Homo sapiens: one gene and its partners. The protein of the gene in region 2 interacts with the protein of the main gene of each other region in a pairwise test. Each region holds a gene or a part of one and is shown on either strand. Other genes may lie near its edges.

Region 1 (3,141 bases), on a different chromosome or scaffold from region 2:
TAATCTGTGAAGGATGCTACTGATGTAATTTTCTATAGGAGCATTGCAGAAGCGGCATCTAGTCTATGTTACACAGAATACAGAGTTGTAAAAACAGAGATGAATCATGTGGTTAGAGGTTGCTATAATAGAAACAATAGGTTGACCACGCTTTAGACATATTACACCAAAATAGCTCTATGCTACCCAATGTGCAGTTCGCGGTTAATCATATGTGGCTATTTCAATTAGTAAAGACGAAGTAAAGTTGAAAAATTCCGTTCCCTAGGTTGCATTAGCCACATTTTAAGTGCTCAATGGCTCCATGTGGCCATTGATTTCCAAGATGGACAGCGTGGGTAATGAATATTCCCATTATTGCAGCAAGTCCTGTTGGAAAGCACTGGTATAGATTATGTTTTCAGTCACTGAGTCATTTACGCTTTTTACAGTAAAGCCGTAAAAGGAGTAGAGGCTGTCCTACAGCTACTTCTAAGCCTCTCAAAAGGAATAAAACATTGAGTCTACCAGATTAGAGCAACTAATACCTCCAAAGTGTGTGTCAATAGAATGAAAATAATGGGCATAGAAAAACACCACTGAGCTGGGCGTGGTGGCTCACACCTGTAATCCCAGCACTTTGAGAGGCCAAGGTGGGTGGATCAACCTGAGGTCAGGAGTTTGAAACCAGCCTGGCCGACATGGAGAAACACCATCTCTACTAAAAATAGAAAAATTAGCTGGGCATCATAGTGCACCTGTAATTCCAGCTACTTGGGAGGCTGAGGCACTAGAATCGCTTGAACCTGGGAGGTGGAGGTTGCAGTGAGCCAAGATTGTGCCACTGCACTCCAACCTGGGTGATGGAGTGAGATTCTGTCTCAAAACAAACAAACAAACAAACAAATAAAACAAACCTACAAACCATCTCAAAAAGTTTAAATTAAAAAGAAGAAGAAGAAGAAGAAAACCAGTAAGGCACTGACTTATGCAAAGACACTGGCCGATATTAGCTTCTGGTCGATATTAGCTTCTCTTTCTGTAATGAGGTTTGTCTTGAAGTATGATCCTAGGACCCACATGCATCAGAATTGCTTGTTTAAATGCAGGCTCCTGGGTCTCATGTCAGATTTATTGGGTCACACTCTCTTGGGTGGGGTTGGTAATCTGCTTTTTTTTTTTTTTTTTTTTTTAAAGAGAGGGTCTTGCTCTGTTACCCAGGCTGGAGTGCAGTGGTGCCATCATAACTCACTGCAGCCTTGACCTTCTGGCTCAAGTTATCCTCCCACCTCAGCTTTCCAAATAGCTGGGACCACAGGTACATGCTACCATGCCTAGGTAATTTTTTTACTTTTTGTAGAGGTGAGGTATTGCTATGTTGCCCAGGCTGGCAGTCTGCTTTTTTTTTTTTTTTTTTTTTTTTTTTGGAGACAGAGTCTCACTCTGTCACCCAGGCTGGAGTACAGTGGTGCAATAACGGCTTACTGCAACCTCCGCCTCCTGGGTTCAAGAAATTCTCCCATCTCAGCCTCCTGAGAAGCTGGGATTAAAGGTGCACGATAGCATGCCTGACTAATTTTTGTATTTTTAGTAGAGATGGGGTTTCACCATGTTGGCCAGGCTGGTCTCGAACTCCTGACCTCAGGTGATCCACCTGCCTTGGCCTCCCAAAGTGCTGGGATTACAGGTGTGAACCACTGCGCCCAGCCTGCAATCTGCTTTTTTACAAACTGGACCTCCAGATAATCTAGCCATTGAAGAACCACTGTTCTAACATCCAGTGCTTCTCAAAACTAGCCAGAAGGACACATCAGTGGAGTCCTTTCGGATTAAGGCTACTGATGATGACCAGGAGTGCTCTATGGCCTTAAAACCCAAGGTTCGTCCATAAGGATGAGCAACAGTGAAATTTACCCCTTAGTTTAATTGGTTGTCCAGCTCGTGGAAGTTGACTTTTTCTTGTGTTCTGTATTTCTGTTCTCTGCAGAGGTTCACAGCCTCCAGCATACTCCGCACACACATCAGGCAGCACTCCGGGGAGAAGCCCTTCAAATGCAAGTACTGTGGTAAATCTTTTGCATCCCATGCTGCCCATGACAGCCATGTCCGGCGTTCACACAAGGAGGATGATGGCTGCTCATGCAGCATCTGTGGGAAAATCTTCTCAGATCAAGAAACATTCTACTCCCACATGAAGTTTCATGAAGACTACTAGCCCTGCCAGGCACAATGACTCACGCCTGTAATCCCAGCACTTTGGGAGGCAGAGGTGGGTGGATCACTCAAGTCCAGGAGTTCGAGACCAGCCTGGGCAACATGGTGAAATCCTGTCTCTACCAAAAAAATACAAAAATCAGCTGGGGGTGGTGGCACATGCCTGTGGTTCCAGCCACTCAGGAGGTCGAGGTGGCAGGATGGTTTGAGCACAGGAGACGGAGGTTGCTGTGAGCTGAGATCGCCCCACTGCTTTTCAACCTGGGTGACAGAACCAGACCCTGTCTCAAAACAAAACAAAACAAAAAAAATGAGTAGCCCTCAAGAGTGTGGAGACAATGTAAAAACAAGAGATTCGGATTCTCTCTATTTCCTTTTATGGGTTATAGAAGTCCCTGCAGTTGGCTGTGTGTGGTGGCTCACGCCTGTTATTCCAACACTTTGGGAGGCCCAGATGGGCGGATCAGCTGAGGTCAGGAGTTCAAGACCATGCTGGCCAACATGGTGAAACCCCGTCTCTACTAAAAATGCAAAAATTAGCCTGGTGTGGTGGCACATGCCTGTAATACCAGCTACTTGGGAGGGGAATTGCTTGAACCCAGAGGCGGAGGTTGCAATGATCTGAGAAAAAGGTAGCTTTTTCTCTACTATTTGCCTTGGGCCCCCAATTATACAATGCGGTCATCACGTGTTACATTTCTTTATAGAAAAGATTCTTATACAGAGAGGCAGATCCCAACATGTTACCCAGGCTGGTCTCAAACTCCTGGGCTCAACTGATCCTCTGGCCTCAGCCTCCCAAAGTGCTGGGATTATAGGTGTGAGCCACTGCATCAGGCCTAGAACAAATCCTCTAAAAATTCGCTTATCATACTGTGCACTTGGCAGAAACAAAAACAAACAAAAACCCCACTAAATAAATAAATATTAATTTAAAGCCAAGCGTGG
Region 2 (7,039 bases):
AAGCTGGTTAATTAGGTTAATTAATTGGAGAGAGGGGATGGGAAATGCCCTTGGGAGCTCTGTATCCTGCCGATGTATCACACACGCACACCCTGCGCACGCACACTGGCTTTCCACTCACTCCTTAGAGGCATCAGAGTCTTGCCTGAAATGGGTCTCTAGCTTTGTCCCACTCAGACACCGACTTTAGGTTTGAACTCGTTGTGCTGGCATGAGGTGGCACTGGTGGTGGGGAGGGTGGGAGAGCATGCCGAGATGCTCCTGATCAGACTTGTCCCCAGGCTGCGGGGCTGGCAGAGGTATGACCAGCATGTTCTGTTCCTCCCTTCTCCCTGGAGATCAGATGTTCCCTTCCCCCAGCTTTAATCAGAAGCGGTTGATTATACCGTGTTGAGTAGGGCAGACCTTGAATGGGGATATGAAAATCAAGCCAATCAATCAACATTAGCAGTAATGATACAAGCTGGTCCTGTCGCTTCCTGAGTTGTCTCAACGTTATTTTAAACTGCCTCTTTGAAAAATCTTTCTTACAGAAAGGAAGAGGTTTTATCAGAATGTCAGCATCACACAGGGTGAAGGTGAGTGTCTGAAATTTTGACTGCCTCTTTTTTTTTTTTTTTTTGTGAATGGTTGGGAACATTTTTCATCTTCAGCTGGTTTCATGGTGCGATTATCCTTCCTGCTTTTTGTGAGATATATTTCTGTAAGGGACTCAGAGTTGGCTTTGTCTGCACCAATTCAAGTGGCTAAATATAGGAATGGTCACTTGATTCCACTTAACAAATCCCTGAGAGTTTTTCATTTGATCTTTCAAGGTGGCTTTGAGATAAACCTGGACCACAGGAAGCTGAAAACTCCCCAAGCCAAGCTCTTTACCGTCCCCAGCGAGGCCCTGGCCATTGCAGTGGCTACTGAGTGGGATTCCCAGCAGGATACCATCAAGTACTACACCATGCACCTGGTAACAAGTTCACAGTGTGAACCTGGACCCTGAGACCCACCCAGGGCTTCGTAGGGTAGACCCTTTACCAAATTCCGACAAGGCCCTGGGGGCTGGTCCTTTGCCTGTCTGGCCCCCAGGGATTCACCTCCTCTCAAGTCACTAACGTGCTAAACTCTTTCCTTGTCTGGCCCGGCTACTTGCAGCTCTCTCTCCTAGGAACACTGTGCTGGATGGCTGGTTTCTCCTTTGGTTTCAGGACAGATGTCACCTTCATTGACTGCCCAGCTCTCTTATTTTCTATGACAGCAGCTGGCCATTTGTTTTGTCAGCACTTAGGCAATTTATAATTGTTTTATGTTTGCACATTTATTGTCTGTCTCTTCCACTGCCTGGTAAGCAACAGAAGGGCAGGAGCCATGTCTGTTTTACTCATCAGTGTCTGGACAGCCACTAGCAGGTAATTTAGTTGGTACTCAGTAAATATTAGTTGAATATAAGATCCACTGGAGGCAGATGGGTGAGGTGAGGAAGACTCCCTATAGAACCAGCCCCCTCGTCCACACCAAAGTGGCTCGCCTAGGCACCAAGGCTGCCTGGGGAAGGAAGGGCCCAGCTACACTCTTAGGTCCAGCCTCTGCAGCTTCTAAACTGTAACCTTGGGCAGGTTGCTACCCCTTTCGCAGCCCCATATTCCCCACCGATTAAAGATGAGTGATAATAGTACCCACCTCACGGAGCTGTGGTCAGGATGAGATGAGATGATGCAAGAAAGCCCTTGGCATGGTCCCCAGCACTGACTGGGCACTCAGTCAATACAGGAGTCAGCTGCTATCATCCCAGCCGCTGCTGTGCTCAACCTTTGCAAACCCAGGTGGGCCTCCTCCCAACATCACAGCCTGCTGAGGTGGTTGGCCTGGTCCTTGACAACCTAGTGAAATTAGGGTGATTAGGGCTACAAACGAATAGGGTAACCTAAGCAGCCTATTATTGACAAGGTAAGTCTGGAAAAAAAAAGATCTTTTTTTTTTTTTTAAACAGTCTAACTCTGTTGCCCAGGCTGCAGTGCAATGGCATAATCTCGGCTCACTGCAACCTCTGCCTCCTGGGTTCAAGCGATTCTCCCGTCTCAGCCTCCCAAGCAGCTGGGATTACAGACGTCCACCACCATGCCAGGCTAATTTTTGTATTTTTAGTAGAGATGGGGTTTTACCATGTTGGCCAGGCTGGTCTTGAACTCCTGACCTCAGGTGATCTGCCCACCTCAGCCTCCCAAAGTGCTGAGATTACAGGCGTGAGCCACCACACTTGGCCGAAAAAAATAATCTTGATCCCGATTTGCATGGGCTATTTCCCTACTTTCTAAGGTGTAAGGGAGGCAGCTGGTAAAGGTTTCCAGTCAGATTTGAGCTCCATCACTAATACATGTCTTATTAACTGTATTTGACAATGTACTTAACCTGTCTGGGCCTCAGTTTTCACATCCCAGATGGACATAATAATAGTACCTACTCCAAAAGGTTGTTGTGAGGATTAAATTAAATACACTAGAGCCTGGTAATAAAAGGCATGTGACCATGGGGGAGGTTCACTAATCCTGGGGCTGCTGCAAGCTTCCCTCGAGTCCTGTGAGCGTCAACACAAAGCATTTGGCATGGAGCCTGGTTGTGGCACACTCTCAGTAGCTGTGCTGCTGCTCCGGTAATGCAGACGCCTCTGGTGGAGGGCTGTGCTGTGGTGCTGTCTGCTATGTGTCAGATGTGGTGTCCTCAGGAAAGCAGGGCTTTTGCCTGAGCCCCGCAGGCAGTGACAGGGTGGTTTTTGCCTTTGATTCAGACCACATTGTGCAACACATCATTGGACAACCCAACCCAGAGAAACAAGGATCAGCTGATCCGGGCAGCCGTGAAGTTTCTGGACACCGACACCATCTGGTAATGGACATTTAGATGGGCATTCCCCTTGGATTGAGGCTATTTTTCCTGATTTGCCCAGATGGTTATCAGTGGAAGAAGAAACCCTCTCCATTTATTGCAAGGACAAGGAAGGTGGCCCACTTGACTTTGGCACTTGGCTGCTCTGTAGCCCCTTAGGAGGAGGACTCCTCGGGCTACAATGGTGTCAGAACATGGCCACCCCTCTTCTCTAGCCCAGAAGCTGCTCCTTAGGCTGGGAGGGTGGTTATGCAGCTCTTGCAGGTGCCGTGACCACAGGCCCCTTAGGCCTAGGGGGGCCTGTGACCTTAAACTTCTGCCCACCGACACTTTCTCAGGTAAAGCATCCTTGGCACTATGGATGCTGATAACTAGGAGTGTCCTTCTCCAGTTCTGAATTCTCCTCTGTGTCTATGTTTCTTGGCTAATTGTTCAGTGATGCCAAAGGAAAGTTGAGAAACAATGGAAATGATTGAGCAGCACCGTGCCTGCTAGCCCAAGTGCTCTAGGATCCTGAGTCATCTCACGATGACACAGGAAGTCAGCACTGATGGCTGGAGGCGTGCTTTCGAAGGGGGTGACCCATAGCTAGTGGGAACGCCCACTCCATTTATATTAGGGTTCACTTGATTGCAGGGAGCAGAAACCCATTCAACCTAGCTCAGACAAAAAGGGGATTCTTGAAAACTATACAGGGATCCTGACAGGAAATGAAGGACAGTTGGGTCACCAGGAAAGGTAGCTGGAAGATCCAATGTCAGAGCTCCTCCCTGTGCCCTACTAGGGTGAGAGGAAGGTGAGGGAGGAAAGGCTGGTTGTCCATCTGCCCCTCCCAGCACCCCAGCTTTTCCTGCATAACTCATGACCTCTCTTCCCCACTTTGCTTACACAAGACAGTGGATTTCCATAGTGCCCACTTGGATTCCCATCCCATGAGGCCCTGCAGCTCAGCTCCTCTCAACTGGCTCATGTCTGTGTCTCTTGGTCAAACAAATGGCACAGCCTGACCTCTAGCTTGGTCCCATCAGGTCTGGCATCTGTGCCAGCAGCTGCATCTGTAGCCAGGAGGTGGGTGGACTTATGAGGTATAAACAGGCTATTTGGTCTGTGACCAGGGGCACAGTCTCTTGGAGGGGGTGAGGGTAGAGATGCAAAGACTGAGCATCTGGCACAGCATTCCCATTCAGCATCTGGGTCAAGCGGGTGTGGACCCAGGGTTGCAGTTAGTAGATTGGATCTGCTTTAGGATGGCAGTAACAGTGTGGCAAGCTTGGACCTGTCAAATATTTGGGGGCATTTAGGGTAGTGGTTCTCAAACTCAAGCTTACACTAGAATCCCCTAGAGGGCTTGTTAAAACAGATTGCTGGGCCCCCCTCCAGAGGTTCTGATTTCTGTAGGCATGCAACCTGAGAATGTGTATTTCTAACAAGTTCCCAGGCGATGCTGGTGCCAGGGCCACACTTTGAGAACCACTGCTTTAGGGGAAAAGACTTGTGGGGCTGGGATGGTGGTGGTGAAGTTTTTGCTGTTGTCCTTTGTGTTTTTCCTTTTCTATCACTGAATGAAGGAATTGTACTTTTTTATTAATGAAGGTTATTTTTACAATGAATTAGCTACAGGGTGGAGGAGCCCGAGACATTAGTGGAACTTCAAAGGAATGAGTGGGATCCAATCATCGAATGGGCTGAGAAAAGGTAAGATGTACAGCCCTGCAGAAAGCACTGACTGGGCACCTGCGTTTGGTGGAGTGTAGGGGTCAGGGGGTCACGCTGGAAAACTAGTGCCCTTAGCTAGTCAGCTTTCTGATTTCAGAGCACTCGTGGGATTTGGCTCCCCTCATATGATCAGGGATAGGGTCATCCTGGGAAAAAAGCACCTCAAATTTAATTTCAGCCACTAGGTACAGCACACCTGCTGTAGCGGTTCATGAAGTGTAGGGGCAGCTCTGTGTCCTTGGAGAAGCAGTGGAGTTCCCAGGCCACCTTCTGCCAGCGGGTCAGAGCAGCAGTGTCGGTTTGAATCCCAGCTCTGCTGAAGACTCAGCTGTGTGACTTGGCTAATGAGTTGATCTCTCTGAGCTTCAATTTTCTTGTCTATAAATGGGGCTAATAATCCCTACCTCTCAGGGTTTGAGGAGGAATAAATGAATTGATGCATGTAAAGGCTTAGCATCCTGCTTATTAGCACACAGTAAATGTTCAAATTTTGGCAGTGATTTTAATCTTTGTCACAATTGCTGTACTATTAAATAAAATAACAGAACAACATATACGATATGTATGCACTTGGAGAAAAGTCTGGATAGCTTCCTGCAAAATTACGGGTAACATCCAATGGATATGTAGCTTCCAGGAATTGATATGAAATATTTTTCTTTAATAGGAAGACTCTTGAGTGCAAAGTTGAATGGATTATTGATGTGGTGGCAAAATAAATTCAATTTCATTTGATCCCAAGGGAAATTTGGAAGGGCTGGCTTTCATGGTACTACCTTGACTGTGGTATTTTCTAAGCTTGCAAGGCACATTTCTTGGTATAGCAGTTTTCCACAAAAGTGATGTTACCAATCAGTTCACTGATTTGCCACATGCTGCCCGATGCTCACAATGTGGCAGGTGTCCTTGGGTCTTAAAAGAGAAGGCAAAGGCAGTGCTCTAAAGACCAGACTACAATACTATGTGGGAATGTGACAAAACAGTGTCATTTCAGAATCTAATGAAATGTAATAATAATTTAGGTGCCTAGAGATCTTTGCTATAGTATAAAATCATCAGATTCTTGTGGCAGGAAATACCTCATCCTTAAGAGTTTATAGAAAAACTTAGCCATTTCTTACAGTCCATTTGTACTATTAGGAATTTCAGCAAGGATTTTTTATTTTTTCTTTCTTGAGATGGAGTCTCGCTCTGTCGCCCAGGCTGGAGTGCAGTGATGCGATCTTGGCTCACTGTAACCTCCACCTCTTGGGTTTAAACGATTCTCGTGCCTCAGCCTCTCAAGTAGCTGGGATTACAGGCGCCCACCACGCCCAGCTAATTTTTGTGTTTTTAGTAGAGATGGGGTTTCACCATGTTGGCCAGGCTGGTCTCGAACTCCTGACCTCAAGTGATTGCCCACCTCATTCTCCTGAAGTGCTGGGATTATAGGTGTGAGCCACTGCACCCAGCAGGATTTTTTTTTTTTTTTTTTTGAAAGGAGTCTCGCTCTGTCACCCAGGCTGGAGTGCAGTGGCGTGATCTCAGCTCACTGCAAGCTCCGCCTCCCAGGTTTTATGCCATTTTCCTGCCTCAGCCTCCCAAGTAGCTGGGACTACAGGCATGCACCATCTACACCCGGCTAATTTTTTTTGTATTTTTAGTAGAGACGGCGTCTCACCGTGTTAGCCAGGATGGTCTCAATCTCCTGACCTCGTGATCCGCCCGCCTCGGCCTCCCAAAGTGCTGGGATTACAGGCATGAGCCACCGCGCCCGGCCCCAGCCGGATTTTTTTAAGCAACAGAAAAAAATCAGTGATATATGGAAGAAAATTACAAAAATTATTTTTATCCCCCATTGTGTTTTTCTGTTTTATTTAGTTATGATTATTCTTGAAAATGTATCTTCTCAGCCAGGCGCAGAGGTCAGGAGGCGGAGGTCGCAGTGAGCCGAGATCATGCCACTGCACTTCAGCCTGGGGTAGAAAGCAAGAAAGACTTCATCTCAAAAAAAAAAAAAAAAAAAAAAGTTTGAAAAAATGACTGCTGACTGGTCATGGTGGCTCATGGCTGTAATCCCAACACTTTGGGAGGCTGAGGTTGGCAGATCGCGTGAGTCCAGGCGTTTGAGACCAGCTCGAGCAACATGGTGAAACTCTGTCTCTACAAAAAAAATTAGCTAGGTGTGGTGGCACATGCCTGTAGTCCCAGCTACTTGGGAGACTGAGGTGGGAGGATCGCTTGAGCCTAGGAGGTCAAGGCTGCAGTGAGTCAAGATCATGCCAGCGCACTCCAGCTTGAGTGACAGAGCGAGACCCTGTCTCAATAAAAAAGAAAACCTCCATGATATATGACATAAACATTATTTTAAGGAAAACCATTTTAAATATTGTTTTTAACTTTTATATGTCCTCAAATGTGAAAAACTTTAAAGAGATGTAAAAGGCAGATGGCCTTTTGATGGAGATTC
Region 3 (7,039 bases), about 22 Mb from region 2:
AATTACTGGCAGCACATAGACGAGTTGAGTTGGAGCCGAATGCATAAGCCCCTTAGAAATAAAACACTAATCTACCAGGAATTTGGGATTCTTGGCTCTGGTAGAAATGTTACAAATTAAGCTGACTCTTAATTTGTAAATAGGCTCCATGAAGTTGTCCCTGGAAGCAGAATTTATTTTCCCTAACATAATTTCTTAAAAAGTAAAAAAAAAAAGAAGGCTTTGGCAAACAGCTGCATGTGCCAATTTGTGTGTATGCTTTGTGGCAAGATCAAAATACCTTTCTGTTTTTTGTTCCTCTCCACCACCTTCTTCACATTCACAACTCAGTGGTTAAAGGAAAAACTTAACACACCATTTTCATACCAAAGGAATGTGAAACATGTATTCATATAAATACTCTTCTGCTTAATATCCATACATTAGGAGGTTTAAAAAATACCTTGTGGTTACTGCATAATCACATATGAATTAAAGCTAGAAGGGACCTAAGAGAACATTGAAATCTAATTCCTATTTTATGGATGAGGAAACTGAGTTTTTTTTGTTTTTGTTTGTTTGTTTTTGTTTTGTTTTGTTTGAGACAGGGTCTCACTCTGTCGCCCAGACTGGAGTGCAGTAGTGTGATCTCCACTCACCGCAACCTCAACCTCCCAGGCTTAAGCGATTTTTCTGCCTCAGCCTCCGGAGTAGCTGGGATTACAGGCATGTGCCACTACTGCCCAGCTAATTTTTGTATTTTTAGTAGAGACAGGGTTTCACCATGTGGGTCAGGCTGGTCTCGAACTCCTGACCTCAAATGATGCGCCTGCCTCGGCTTCCCAAAGTGTTGGGATTACAGGTGTGAGCCACCGAGCCTGGCCGGAAACTGAGTTTTAAGAGTTAAATAAGGCTGGGTGTGGTGGCTCACACCTGTAATCCCAGCACTTTAGGAGGCTGAGGCGGGCTGATTGCTTGAGCCCAGGAGTTCAAGACCAGCATGGGCAACATAGTGAGACCCCTATCTCTACAAAAAGAACAAAATGTAGCCAGACATGGTGGTGTGCACTTGTTGTCCCAGTACTCAAGAGGCTGAGGTGGGAGGATCACCTGAGCCTGGGGAGGTCGAGGCTGCACTGAGCCATGATTGCACCACTGCACTCCAGCCTGGGCAACAGAGTGAGATCCTGTCTCAAAAAAAAAAAAAAAAAAAAAGTTAAACGATTTCTCAAAGTCACATAGCTAATTAGCCAGCATTTTGTGACCTCCTATTCCAGTGCTAATTTTACCATGATAACAGCACTCCTCCTGATAGTATGTACATATTATGAGTGACAAGGATGACTTATACATCTGCAGAACCGTGATCAGACTTTCAGGAATTTTCATGGAATACAGCAGTTCCATTTAAATGGGAAAAAAAGGGCCGAAGCCTGCCTGATCAAGGAGAACCTCTCAATAGAGGTGTCCCTCCTCACCCCATTCCGGAGCTCAACTCCGATCTAAACACACATGCCATCTATCTCCAATTCCTCTCCTGTGGGGAGGGGGAGGCTGAGCCATACTTTTTGGACTTTTTTTGTGGAAAATATCATTGGCAAATTTGCTTTGGGTCTGTATCACCAATTCTCCATGAACTCTTTCAAGAAGTTTTAGGTAGCTGTTTTTTGTTTGTTTGTTTTCTGTTGGTGCTGCCAAACAATTTCCCCCTTTATACCCTTGCTCTGCCAACCTTGACCAAAGGAAAGCGATGTCATCATCCACAGTGGATAAATTTCTGGAGTTTCGATGATGGTCTATATTTAAAACCATGAGTTCTTCTGGCATAGATTTTCTTCTATAGACAACTGGTTTAGCCCAAAGCAGCTCAGCTTTTCACTGGAGATGGGAAGGTAAAGGACAGAAGCAGAAGTGCCATCAGATGACATTTTTTAAAAATGTTGTGATAGGAAATGGATCTGATGCTTGGAGAATGGGGTCTTCAGTTACTCGTAACAGATACTTATTTTATGGCTGTTCTTTTACTTACTCTTAGACTGTCATTTAGATTAGGGAGATTAGATCTTAACCCTTCAGCCTGTGAAGGGCAGAAGGGTGAGGCTTCCCAGCAAGGTCAGCTGGTCAGCTCTTCCTCTTTGTGGATTTGCATGTATGACTGAAAGGCTTTTCCACGTGTGGTTGATATATCTCAGAAAGAATGTTTCATATAGCACATCTCCGGGACCACTCATTCCACTGCTGTAGAAGATAATGACCAAATACCTTTTTGGCTTTTAAATTCCATAAAATTCAAGTCCCTGATGGGAAAACAAAGGTTTCACAAAAGTAATAATATGCTAGACCTGCGAATAATTTCTGAAGGAAGACAGTGTTTCCCTGGCTACCCCTGTGAACACAGCTAAAAATGGTATGAAAAGAAGTTTGGAACTGAGTATGTTTTGAGAGCAATCTGTTAGGCGAGGTCATTGGTTTTTAGAAACGATGCTGAATACATAGGAGCAATCCCTGAGACCAGATATTCACTTCAGCAGGGCTCTGTGTTCTCCTCTGGCTATGTGAGACGAGAACTCATACCGATCATGGCTTCGATATCCACACATGTTACACTCGAAAGGGTCACGGAAGCCGTGGCAGCCCATGTGAATCGTGAACATCACATAGTCCAGGAAGAGGACGCGGCAGTGGTCACACCGATACACATCCATCACCTCCCCTTCCTTGTTGATCACTTTGACGGAGTCTCTTGGGCAGATGGGCGGGGGCTTGAGGAGTTCGTAAGAGCGGGGAACCTCCTTCAGAAGTGGCATCCCATTGCGGGCCCGAGACAGGACCATGTGATTTTGCTGATAGATGTGATTCTGGCGTTCTTCATGGTTGCTGTCAGTGTCCGTGGAGTCGTGGCCACTATTGTTGGGAGAGAGGCCTCTCTCAGAAGGCACGCTCTTCTCTGGAAGGTGGATGCTTTTCTTTTCCAGCTCTTGAGGGGCACCGTTTGACATCTCAGCCCGGGTGAGGGCTATGGGATACATGCTGCTGATAACTGGAACCATCTCCGAGGTGGGAGCAGGCGGTGTCTGGACCAAGGGGCGCAGGGCTTCGGCGCCAAGATAGCTGATGGCGTTATTGATGGCTTGGTCCATCATGCGGGTCTGTATGAGCTCACTCTCTTTCTCATACATGTAACTTGAATTATAGTTGACATCAAAGCAGTGGCGCTTCTCACCTGGAACAAGTGACAGAAAGGGTTACAAAGGGAACACTGCCAAGGCAGAGAGTTTGTAAATATTTTCTAGAGACCTCAAAAAGGGAGGAGAGTTAAGTTGCCTGCTGCTCAAGAAGACCAAGCCTGGCAGAATGGTTTCCCATGGTGCTGTCTCAGGGGACACTGGTCGGCAGCAACGTGTTTGGATGGTTAAAATAAAGCCAGCAGGCAGAAGAGAGGGGCAGAGATGTGGTTCAGTTGAGGCCACATGGTAAGGTATGCCCACTGTGCATGTTAGAGGAGAGCCCTCAAGAAAGGAGGGAAAGAAGCAGGACACTAGGATGGGGCTAGAGGGACAAGGGAGCCACCAGCCCACAGGAGCCTGGGACTTCTGCTATAGTTCATGATCTCTTAAGACACAGTCGGCTCCCAACTCTTATTTTGCTTTTGCTTGTTATTTTCTGCTTGCAATATTAGGTAGCCAGGGGGACAGAAGTGCTGCAAAGAGTGGGGACACTCGGTGCCTCACCTCGGCAGCTTTTTAAATAGCTACAGAGATAGAGAAAATAGCCCCCCAGACTCCAACTGGCTACTCCCCAAACTCACCCGTCCTGGCTGACTGAGACTGAAGTGAAAGAGCTTCAAATGTAGAAAGTTTGAGAAAAGTTTTCTTGAGAAGAGATCATGGTCTTTGTCCCTTTCCTAACGTGTGTTTCTCTTCCTTTGCTTGGCAAGTGTATCTCTGATACACATGTGATCATTAGGGCCTATCTCACACTTAACTGAAAAAATATACTTGTGGTCACCCTCTCCTACTTCTCATGTCAAACTGCTGAGAAGTTTTGAAAACAGAGTTTAGCCACCTTCAGAGTGTGTGGGTGTTGTGTGTTAGAAAACAGAGGCTCTCTGGTCACAGGGAAGGCAGGGATGGGGACTGCAGTGAGGGCAGATGTGCTCAGTGGTGAGTGGTGGGGAGAGGGGAGAGAAAGCGAGGAAGTGGAGCCGAGTGCTGGAGGTGAGGCTGAGGTCACTGTTGAGCCTCTCCATTCTGTCAGCTTGGATCCTGGAGGGATTTGCTAAACCATATCCTTCTATAATGTTTCCTAGTCATGTTGAGATTCCAAAATTTGTCACTGCCCTACAGTAAAGGGTTCAGCAATGAAAATAAAGAAGAAGAAGAAAAAATGCCATGAGAAAACAAAAGGATTGGAAGAACCAGTTCCTGTTCTTGAGGTGTCTCCAACCTAGTGGATGAGAAATAAGACCTATATATATATAGAACTCGAGAAAAAGTATAAGTTAAAAGTTGGCCGGGCGCGGTGGCTCAGGCCTGTAATCCTAGCACTTTGGGAGGCTGAGGAGGGAGGATCACTTGAGCCCAGGAGTTCGAGACCAGCCCGGGCAACATGGAGGAACCTTGTCTCTACAAAAAAATACAAAAATTAGCCAGGCATCTGTAGTCCCAGCTACTCAGGAGGCTGAGGTGGGAGGATCACCTGAGCCTGGGAGGCAGAGATTGTAGTGAGCTGAGATGGCACCACTGCACTCCAGCCTGGGTGGCAGAGTAAGACCTTGTCTCAAAAAAAAAAGTTGTAAAAGGACTGCTTTGCTCTATGGAGGTCTTTGCTTTTATTCTAAATGCCCACATTTGAGGCATTTAGGCAGGGAAGTAACGTGTTCTTTAAAAAGAATAATAAGGTAACATACAGGCATCGGTGAGACAATTTGGTATAAATTGTATATTTAGGCATTAAGGGAATGCAGAAACTTCAGAAGTACTTGGGGAAGGGAAAGCATTCTTGGAAAATCTAAATTTTGAGAAGGGTCTTGAACTGGAAGAATTTAGATTTTCAGAGAAGCGGGAGAGGACATCCTAGTTGAGGGGGAGTGCAGGAATGAAGGCAGAGAGGTGGGACTACACGGGACGTGTGCAGAAAGCGAGTCTGGCTGAAACGCGATCAAGAAGTATGAAATACAGTATTTCTCAGGCTTCACTCTTCCTTCACATTCTGCAATATCCACACACCAGGGCAGTGTGGTGGTTGAGAGAATAAACTCTGGTGTCAGATGGGCTGGGTTTGATGCTGGCTCCATTGGTCACCAGTTTTGTGACCTTGGGCAAGTCACTTAACCTATGTTCCGTGTCCTCATGTAAAGTGAAGATAATTGTATGTACCTCACAGGGTCACTGGAAAGCACTTAGAACAGGGCCTGCCACATGGAAAACACTTGGTAAATGCTTGGGTTTTTTTCCTCTGTTTGATTTGGTTCACATTTTCTTTCTTTTTTTCTTTTTCTAAAATAAATGTGGTTTTTAAGGAAACTTTATATCACTAACATAAACGGAAAACCAGAATCACTTTCCACAAGTAGAAGGTAACTATGAAAAATAAAGACAATGAAACAGAGCATTTCATTAAATTTTGATCGGATACTACTGTGAGTACTTGGAGACTAAGATCCCTTCCCCCTTTGTTAAAAACAGAGATTACCAAGTGTGAGATTAGTGTTAAAGACAACTGGCATCAAATTAAGTCTAAATTTTTCTCCTTAGTATGATCCAGGAGACTGAAAGAGAACTGGAAAGAAAATAATTATCCTGCTGTGTGGACCCAGGTTTTTAAATGCTCCATGTGCTTGCTGGCAATTTGCATCCTACATTTGGGGAAACACTGAAAAAAGATAATGCATGGTAGGACCGAATGGTGGGCATTCCGAATGGCCCACTGTAGGGTGTGAATCCGAACCAAGAGCCAAGGCTACCTGCCCTTGAGAAAGACAGGTTTGTGGTTAACGTAACAGCAATGTGTAAGGCAGACCAGAACAGTGAGAAATTGGAGCCAGAAGAACCAGCTAAAAGATCTATTCCCATGAGATGAATTTGTCTTTGCATCCCCACAAGCAGCTGACCTTAAGGCCAACCTGATAGTTTCCAGAGAAATACCTGAGAGAGAAAAAAAATATGCAAACGAAAATACCCTGTCTTGGAAACTCAATGAGAAGCAACAGCAGAGTAGACCTTGGCCAAAGTAATCAATGTTTTTTATTTTCAGTTTCCAGATTGGATATATCTTTGGTCAAGGCCATCTGGAAGACTGAGAACATGAGAGCCAGCTAAGGTCACAGACATTCATTCCCTAGAATGTGACACAGAAATGATGAACTTCGGTTTCTTGGCCTTTTTAAGGTTATTGGTTATTTTCCACTGTGGCCACCTCTATTCATCTCCCTAAATACCAGGGGTCCTTGAGAAACTTTTTCTCTTTTCACCCAACAGAGAGGCTCCAGAAGGTTTCTGGGTGGGGTAGGCACATCACAAACTCTGATTTTATCCTTTCTCCTAAGAGTTTGCTTTACTTAACAAGGCCTACAATTTCACAATCTATACCACCTGCAGCATATGTCAGAAAACAGCTGAGTGCTAAAATTGTAAAAGGCAAAACATTAAGAGGAAGATAAACCCCTGGATGAGTGGAAATATGTGACTGAATTCTGTAGTTAACACAGACCATTGTTCATTGTTAAGGAGATGGGGCAGCCTCAGATGTTCACGTGCATGCAACTTGCAATCATCAGATCCCCTCGTCTCTGAGTTACGGTAACTTGAGCAGTGCAGATGATTATCAGTCACCTGTAGACACGATGACTCAATGTGTATGAAACCCAGAAAGGGTAAACTACAGTAATTGAAAAGCCAACAGCTCACGTTTCTTTAGTAACACACTCATAAAAAAGGTTAGTCAAACCACAAAAGTGTAACTGCTTCCAAACCTGCACGGAGCATCTGGTCCAGCTTCTAGTCAAAATCACACCACGCCTTTGAATGATTCATGATACCAGCTTCAGGCTGAATTAGAG

Evidence for each region.
Region 1: the proteins of ATPAF2 (region 2) and PRDM14 interact in binary tests that used the Homo sapiens proteins (3 or more experiments, as listed by UniProt).
Region 3: the proteins of ATPAF2 (region 2) and IKZF3 interact in binary tests that used the Homo sapiens proteins (3 or more experiments, as listed by UniProt).

Annotation. Positions count from the first base shown.
Region 1 is NC_000008.11:70,051,130-70,054,270, reverse strand, and holds the end of PRDM14 (PR domain zinc finger protein 14), read left to right. Parts: intron 1-1,966; coding exon 1,967-2,194; 3' UTR 2,195-2,620; downstream 2,621-3,141. UniProt on the Homo sapiens protein: Transcription factor that has both positive and negative roles on transcription. Required for the maintenance of embryonic stem cell identity and the reacquisition of pluripotency in somatic cells.
Region 2 is NC_000017.11:18,022,154-18,029,192, reverse strand, and holds part of ATPAF2 (ATP synthase mitochondrial F1 complex assembly factor 2), read left to right. Parts: intron 1-533; coding exon 534-578; intron 579-815; coding exon 816-961; intron 962-2,776; coding exon 2,777-2,874; intron 2,875-4,488; coding exon 4,489-4,569; intron 4,570-7,039. UniProt on the Homo sapiens protein: Plays a role in the assembly of the F1 component of the mitochondrial ATP synthase (ATPase).
Region 3 is NC_000017.11:39,763,292-39,770,330, forward strand, and holds part of IKZF3 (zinc finger protein Aiolos), read right to left. Parts: intron 3,203-7,039; coding exon 2,499-3,202; 3' UTR 1-2,498. UniProt on the Homo sapiens protein: Transcription factor that plays an important role in the regulation of lymphocyte differentiation. Plays an essential role in regulation of B-cell differentiation, proliferation and maturation to an effector state.